2 linked regions of the Homo sapiens genome follow. The protein of the gene in region 2 purifies or fractionates together with the protein of the main gene of each other region. This does not show direct contact. Each region holds a gene or a part of one and is shown on either strand. Other genes may lie near its edges.

Region 1 (4,011 bases), on a different chromosome or scaffold from region 2:
ATCTTCATCTGATACTATTTCCCCCCCTTTCATATTTTGTGGATTTTTACATTTAGGTCCACTTTCACCTTTTTGACCACTACGTCCTAGCCCAAGTAGGCATCCTGTAGAGCACATTTAAACATGGTGTTCCTTAACATTTTATAAATGGCTATACAGTTCACTTTTAAAAATATATTTTAATGGAATTTTAAAGTACATGCATAACTCTTGAAGCACTGCCATAGCATACTTTAAAAAGTTATTTGCATTAATTATTCGTACTGTTTAAAAGCAGTACAAAGCAGATAATGTAGTACAATACAGTTCAGAAATAGACCTAAGTTTATACAATCATGTGCCACTTAAGAGGGATATGACCTGAAAAATGTGTTGTTAGACAATTTCATTGTTGTGTACACATCACAGAGTGTATTTACACAAACATAAATGATATAACCTACTACACACCTACACTCTATGGTATATAGCCCGTTGGTCTTAGGCTACGAAACTCTGGCATTGTGTTAACTATACTGAATACTGAGGCACTTGTAACACAATGGTAAGTATTTGTGTAGGCAAACATATCTAAACATAGAAAAGGTACAGTAAAAATAGGGTATAAAAGATAAAACATGGTATACCTGTATGGGGTACCTACCATGAATGGCATTTGCAGGACTGGAAATTGCTCTGGGTGAGTTAGTGAGTGAATGTAAAGGCCTAGAACATTACCATCGTATTTTATAAACTCGTACTTTAGACCTTATAAACACTGTACACTTAGGCTATACTAAGTTTATAAGAACATTTTATCTTTCTTTAATAATAAATTAACCTTAGTTTGCTCTAGCTTTTACTTTTAAACTTTACAATTTTTAAAAACTTTTTGACTCTTGTAACGCCACTTAGCATAAAACAGACACGTTGCACAGCTGTACAAAAATACTTTCTTTATATCCTTATTCAATAAGCTTTTGTCTATTTTTAACATTTTTTTATGTTTTACTTTTTAAACTTTTAATTAAAAACTAAGACACAAACACATACATTAGTCTATGTCTAAACATGGTCAGAATCATCAGTATCACCGTTTTCTACCTTTACGTCTTGTCCCACTGGAAAGTCTTGAGGGGCAGTAACACACACACAGCTGTCATAGGCAATGTGTGTATTATAGGCTGAGGCCTACGATAACAGTTCCTTCTTCTGAAATACCTCCTGAGGAAACTGCCTGAGGCTGTTTTATAATTAACTTAAAAAAAATTAGAGTACACTCTAAAATAATGATAAAGAGTATAGTATAGTAAATATGTAAACTAGTAACAGTCGTTTGCCACCATATTCAAGTATTATGCTGTACATAATTGTGCGTGCCATACTTTTATATGACTGGACTGGCAGCACAATCGGTTTGTTTACACCAGTATCACCATGTGAGTAATGTATTATGATAGTTATAAGGTCACTAAGCAATAGGAATTTTTCAGGTTTATTAAAATCTTAGGGGACCACTTTTGTATATAGTCATTGTTGACCAAAACATTGTTCTGTGGTGGCTGACTTTATGAGGATTTTAATGGATCACAAAGGAGTTGTTTTAAATCAAGGAATAAAACAAGTTATTCAGTAAATGATGTTGGGGCAATTGACTAGCTATTTGGAAAAAAGACAGCATTATGTCTTTTTTAAATATCCAAATAAATTAAATTGGATGAATTTTTTTTCTTTTTTTAATACATAAAACATTTAATACATGCTACAAAATTCTTTTTTTTAAATAGTAAAATCCTAGGGATTTAAAAAAAATAGTCTTAATATTGAGAGGGCTTTTTAAGGTATGGCACGATATTCATAAAGGAAAATATTGGTAAATTCCAGTACATGAAAAATTTAAAACTTGTTGATGACAAAAACAAAAGAACAACAACAACCCCTTTCTCTCCAATAAAAGGTGCATCATAAAATCAAAATCCAATCGGGGAAAATATTTTGCCCAAAATATCACCAAACTTCATTCAATTAGAAAAATACAAGCAGGCCAGATTGTGAAAAAAGTCAAACATTTCACTTCTAATAGAAAGTCACACAAGATGTACAAATACACAAGATTGTTCATATCTGTAGAAATTGCTTTAATTATGCTAAATATATAATATATATGGCCATTCAAGAAAAGTGACATTTATTGGTATGGACATCGAGAGATATTTATGAAAAGAATTGGGTTAATAATTTAACCATGAAGTTATAAACTAGTATGTTTCCGTATACATACCATACATATTTATATACAGAAGTTCTTTCAGTATGTGTGTAGAAAAATATATGTAGGATTTAACTCCGAATTCCTCACAGAATAGTGGTTATCTCTTAGGGCTAGGGATAATCATGGACTGCTTTTTTACATTACGTGGCCTGAAATTTTGAATCTTTGTAAAAAGTGAAATGGGTGGGTTACAGAAGGAATTGTTTAAACTTTAAAGATTTTATGTTGCAATTACCTGAAATATTGGTTTCTTGAACTTTTCTAATATAAAACAATAGTTTTATCAAAATGAAAGTAATTATGGAATATGTTTCTTATAACATCAGAAGTTCTTAGTTTTCCTGAGTAAATTTACATCTTTACAAAGCAAAAACTCAGTTCTTTCAAAAATTTACACAGCCTAATTCTCAAGTTTGTAATGGAGCAATGTTAATAAAAAGTTTGTAAATCATTTTGTAATTAAAGTTGAAACTTTAGAAAGTTGTAGCCTCATCTTATAGATTTGAGGAGCTGTGTGCTGAATATAGAGATGTGTAAAGTTAGATCATCAGAAATTTTTGTCAGTAACTTATTTTTGAAAATGTCAGTAACTCTTTTGCTTTTTAGGTGAATTTTTTTTAGCTGAATGTAAGGATGAGTTTTATGAGTAGGTATTTTGCATTAAACAGTTGGAATTCCTTATAGAATATGATACATTTTTATGTAACAGTGATAGCTTCAAAAAATTGCAAATTGTCCTGGAACTAAAATACATATAAGTACTTTTTAAAAAAATTCTAGTTGTATGACATTGTGACAAAAATTCTCTGAGCAGCATTTGAACAGGCATGAAATCTTTTAAATTTATCATAAATTTATATGTGCAGGTTTAAAATTTATACCTGGGGATTTTAATACCACACAACTTATGTCAAATATCATTGAATATGTAATTGTTTCTACATTTCACATTATGCTGTACTTTGAGATTGTATTATAAATCTTGTGTGAGTATAAGTTATTTGGCAATATGTTGCTAACACTGATTTACCTTAGTTCATGTTACTCTAATTTGAATGCAGTTTCCAAACCAGCCACTTAATATAGCAAGTACTTAGACATGACTATTTTTTAAGTTCACGTTTTATATTCAGTTATAAAAGTTTGGTAGGAAAAACTGTTTTTCAATAGAAGAGTTCAGAGGGGTTTTTTTTCCTTTCATTGAGACACTTATATTTTGTTTTAGTTTTATAATAAACATTTTATGGTAGTTGGTCATTTGATGTAATTTGAAAATAATATACTTTACACATGCAAAATTATTATTAAAGATTAATAATTATATACCATTTGTAAATGAACAGTAATTGAAATAAAATATATTTAGCATATTGATCCTAATTTAGACATTGATTCAGACATTAAAACTAGGATCTTGAAGTACCTTGGGATTGTCATCTTAAACAGCAGTTGTCATTGTGTTATAAACATGTAGACATATTTCTTTTAGTCAAATATTGGCCAGTAGTGAAATAGCTATATTTTATTATGAGAAATTATTCTTGTTTTCTTTTTAAAGGAATTTGCAATTACTAGTCTGATTGTAGGAGTAAATAACCATAAAAAGTAAAGTGTAAATTATAATAATAGTAAATTGAATAGTAAATAATCAAAAAGCAAATGGGCAGATAGCCATCTTCAGTTGTCTTTAGCTATTTTAATTTTAATGTTAGGCACTATGACATTTATTTTTTTCTTCAGAAATTTTTAATGTCTTATAT
Region 2 (4,011 bases):
ACCTGCTACCATTCTCATTACAGGCCTTACCAATCATCATTTTCTTTGGATGTGTGGTGTCCATTCTCTACTACCTGGGCCTTGTGCAATGGGTAGTTCAGAAGGTGAGTCGTTCTCTTACACCAGTCAGGAGACAGGCCTTCATCCTGTCATCAGTCAGCTTTGGAAAAATGCCCATAGCTAAGGTCTAGAGTGTTAGAAACAATGGGAAAAGGCAGGCCCTCTCAAGCATGCCTGATAGCAAACTGTCAGCCGAGGCCCTAGGTAGGCTGAGGGCAGAGCAGAGAGAAGATGAGCTGGACTGCCTTTGATACTGAGTTTTAATGTACTTGTTCTAAAGGCAACGAGTCCTGAGTTCTGGTCAAGGCTCTGTTTCTAAGTTGGTTTTTGGCCCTAGGCTTGCTGCTCTACTTCTCTAGGCCTCAGTTTCCTTATCAGTAAAGTGGAGGAGGAGGAGTTTTGCGAGATGTTCTCCAAGATTCCTGCTAACATTAATGGTTTAGGTTTCTGTATTCTTCTAGGTCGCCTGGTTTTTACAAATCACTATGGGCACCACTGCTACAGAGACCCTGGCTGTGGCAGGAAACATCTTTGTGGGTATGGTAAGCACCTTGAGGACTTTTGGTCTTCTTCCCTCTGAGGAACTGAGAATTTGGCACAAAACAAGAGTATGCTTTCCTTCTGAAAAGTCAAATAAATGAAGACTGTGGGGCAGCCAATCTTGGATGAGAGATAACTCAGCAGCTCAAAGAAGACTCTGCTCATTGCGTTCACCCTTTGCGCCTAATAATACTTCCCTGGTAATACTTAATCTGGAGGGATAGCCTTCACCACTTCTAATGAACACTTCCTACGTAGGAATGTAGGGAATGTCCTCGTCCAATTCATATCCCCTTTCGGAGGCTATGAAGGGTGTTTGATCCTCATTCTGGTTTCTCCCTGTGACTCCCTGCAGTACTTGGTTTCCAGGGTCTCTAAGGAGGAAATCACTTATCTTGCTCATCGCTAACGCCCAGGCTCTTCCCCATAATACTTGCTTGGTACATTCGTCTGTATGGAGTAGGTGCTCCATATGTGCTACTGACTGATCAGCTCAATGTTGGGGACAATGACTTGTCACATTCGCAGGGAGTTAGTACTGAGGTCTTTCTCTCCCAAGGCTCTAGGCTGCTTCTGAAATGTTCTCAGAGTACTTCTGGATACTTTACCATAGCACTCCACATTTTGCTGAAATTATCCATAATCAGCCTAGTTTCCTATGTGAGACTATAAGCTTCTAAGAGTAAGGACTTTGCCTTACCTATATCAATGTCCTTAGCATCTAGTGCAGTGCTAGGCACATAGTTGGTACTTGTTAAATAATAGATACCATTATCTTAGGTCAGTGCTGGATATGGCTTACATAGATGGCCCTTCATAATTTCATAACATTTTCACAAACATTATTTCTTTTGATCCATAAGCAGGGGGTTTGGATCATCTATTTGTATTTCATTTAATGAGTACTGTTTAAGCATCTAATATGTTCTCATTAAGTGCACTGCATTCCGTAAGTTCAGTAAGTGTGTGGCTTTAGACATTGAGAATATACAAACAAAATATACCATTTCTCTTCTATAACATTTTAACATGTCAATAGATGAAACAAGCATGTATAGAAACAGGTGAGAACTATGCCAGCCAGGACATGATTGGGTGCCAGAGGAAGTAAGGCAGAAGCTGGATGGGCCTGACAGCCGGGCTCCGTGCTCACTAAGTGAAGCTGTGGCTCACTTAACAGTGCTCACACTGGATGGATGTGTATCTAGTGGGTCCAGCCCCTGGGGCTGGGGTGGGCACACTGGCATGGGGAGTTACACCTTCTTGGAATCTGACTGTTTTCTCCGTGTTTGTAGACAGAGGCACCTCTGCTCATCCGTCCCTACCTTGGGGACATGACACTCTCTGAAATCCATGCGGTGATGACTGGAGGGTTTGCCACCATTTCTGGCACTGTGCTGGGAGCCTTCATAGCCTTTGGGGTAGGCATAGTCTGCTTGATCACTCCTGGGTGAACTCGAGTTGGGTTTGATAGAAACACTGATGCCTAAGTCTGGCGCCTCACAGGTTGATGCATCATCCCTGATTTCTGCCTCTGTGATGGCCGCCCCTTGTGCTCTCGCCTCATCAAAGCTAGCGTATCCGGAAGTGGAGGAGTCCAAGTTCAAGAGTGAGGAGGGGGTAAAGCTGCCCCGTGGGTGAGTCCAAGGAGGCATATACTTTGGGAGATGGTGAGCTGTAGTTAAGAGTGGCACTGTGGTGGCAGAGACTTCAAGTCTCCCTGAGGGGGAATAATGTGATTCCATATTCCTTCTTGCCTATCTCTGGTGCTTGCTAATCATGCTGGTTTTCTTCATTTAACCCTCCCACCTGGCACTAGCTTCTGCATGCCAGTACCCTCTGTCCTTGCCATCCATGCAATTACATGACAATTATATCTGATATTGCTTCAGAGTAATTTCCACTAATAGGGTCACTGAGGAACCCCTGTCACCTTCTACATTGGCCTTGCACCCTCCTCCTGCACGATAGGGACAGTGGGATTTCTCTTCTCTGAGGGGCTGAGACTGCTGTAGACACCCTACTCTTGCCCTCTGCCCAATAACCACAGGAAGGAGAGGAATGTCCTGGAAGCTGCCAGCAACGGAGCCGTAGATGCCATAGGCCTTGCTACTAATGTAGCAGCCAACCTGATTGCCTTTTTGGCTGTGTTGGCCTTCATCAATGCTGCCCTCTCCTGGCTGGGGGAATTGGTGGACATACAGGGGCTCACTTTCCAGGTAAAGGATTACATTTGTTGGGCTGTCCCTCTGGGATGTGGTTAGGTAGCCCTTCAAACATGCATGTCCAAATCAAAACCACAATGAGATACCATCTCACACCAGTTAGAATGGCAATCATTAAAAAGTCAGGAAACAACAGGTGCTGGAGAGGATGTGGAGAAATAGGAACACTTTTACACTGTTGGTAGGACTGTAAACTAGTTCAACTATTGTGGAAGTCAGTGTGGTGACTCCTCAGGGATCTAGAACTAGAAATACCATTTGACCCAGCCATCCCATTACTGGGTATATACCCAAAGGACTATAAATCATGCTGCTATAAAGACACATGCACACGTATGTTTATTGCGGCACTATTCACATTAGCAAAGACTTGGAACCAATCCAAATGTCCAACAATGATAGACTGGATTAAGAAAATGTGGCATATATACACCATGGAATACTATGCAGCCATAAAAAATGATGAGTTCACGTCCTTTGTAGGGACATGGATGAAATTGGAAATCATCATTCTCAGTAAACTATTGCAAGGACAAAAAACCAAACACCACATGTTCTCACTCATAGGTGGGAATTGAACAATGGGAACACATGGACACAGGAAAGGGAACATCACACTCTGGGGACTGTTGTGGGGTGGGGGGAGGGGGGAGGGATGGCATTAGGAGATATACCTAATGCTAAATGACGAGTTGATGGGTGCAGCACACCAGCATGCCACATGTATACATATGTAACTAACCTGCACATTGTGCACATGTACCCTAAGACTTAAAGTATAATAATAATAAAAAAAAAACAACCATGCATGTCCTTCTGACCCACAGTAAGCCAAGAGAGAGCATGAATAGAAGGGTGGAAGAGATTGGGCCAAGGCTCCAGAGAAGGTCCTTGGCACCTGACCTTTGTTATATTAGTCCTTCCTTTTCCTGTGATATCTCTCTTTCACTCAGGTCATCTGCTCCTATCTCCTAAGGCCCATGGTTTTCATGATGGGTGTAGAGTGGACAGACTGTCCAATGGTGGCTGAGATGGTGGGAATCAAGTTCTTCATAAATGAGTTTGTGGCTTATCAGCAACTGTCTCAATACAAGAACAAACGTCTCTCTGGAATGGAGGAGTGGATTGAGGGAGAGAAACAGTGGATTTCTGTAAGTGACAATCCAAAAAGCATAAACACCGTGAG

Evidence for each region. Proteins that work in one complex are often made in the same cells at the same time.
Region 1: the proteins of SLC28A2 (region 2) and RBM26 purify together in Homo sapiens (affinity purification with mass spectrometry; one large-scale study listed by BioGRID and IntAct). This does not show direct contact.

What each region holds. Positions count from the first base shown.
Region 1 is NC_000013.11:79,322,486-79,326,496, reverse strand, and holds part of RBM26 (RNA-binding protein 26), read left to right. Parts: intron 1-4,011. UniProt on the Homo sapiens protein: May be involved in the turnover of nuclear polyadenylated (pA+) RNA.
Region 2 is NC_000015.10:45,265,560-45,269,570, forward strand, and holds part of SLC28A2 (sodium/nucleoside cotransporter 2), read left to right. Parts: intron 1-23; coding exon 24-104; intron 105-521; coding exon 522-602; intron 603-1,895; coding exon 1,896-2,021; intron 2,022-2,106; coding exon 2,107-2,237; intron 2,238-2,650; coding exon 2,651-2,819; intron 2,820-3,778; coding exon 3,779-3,976; intron 3,977-4,011.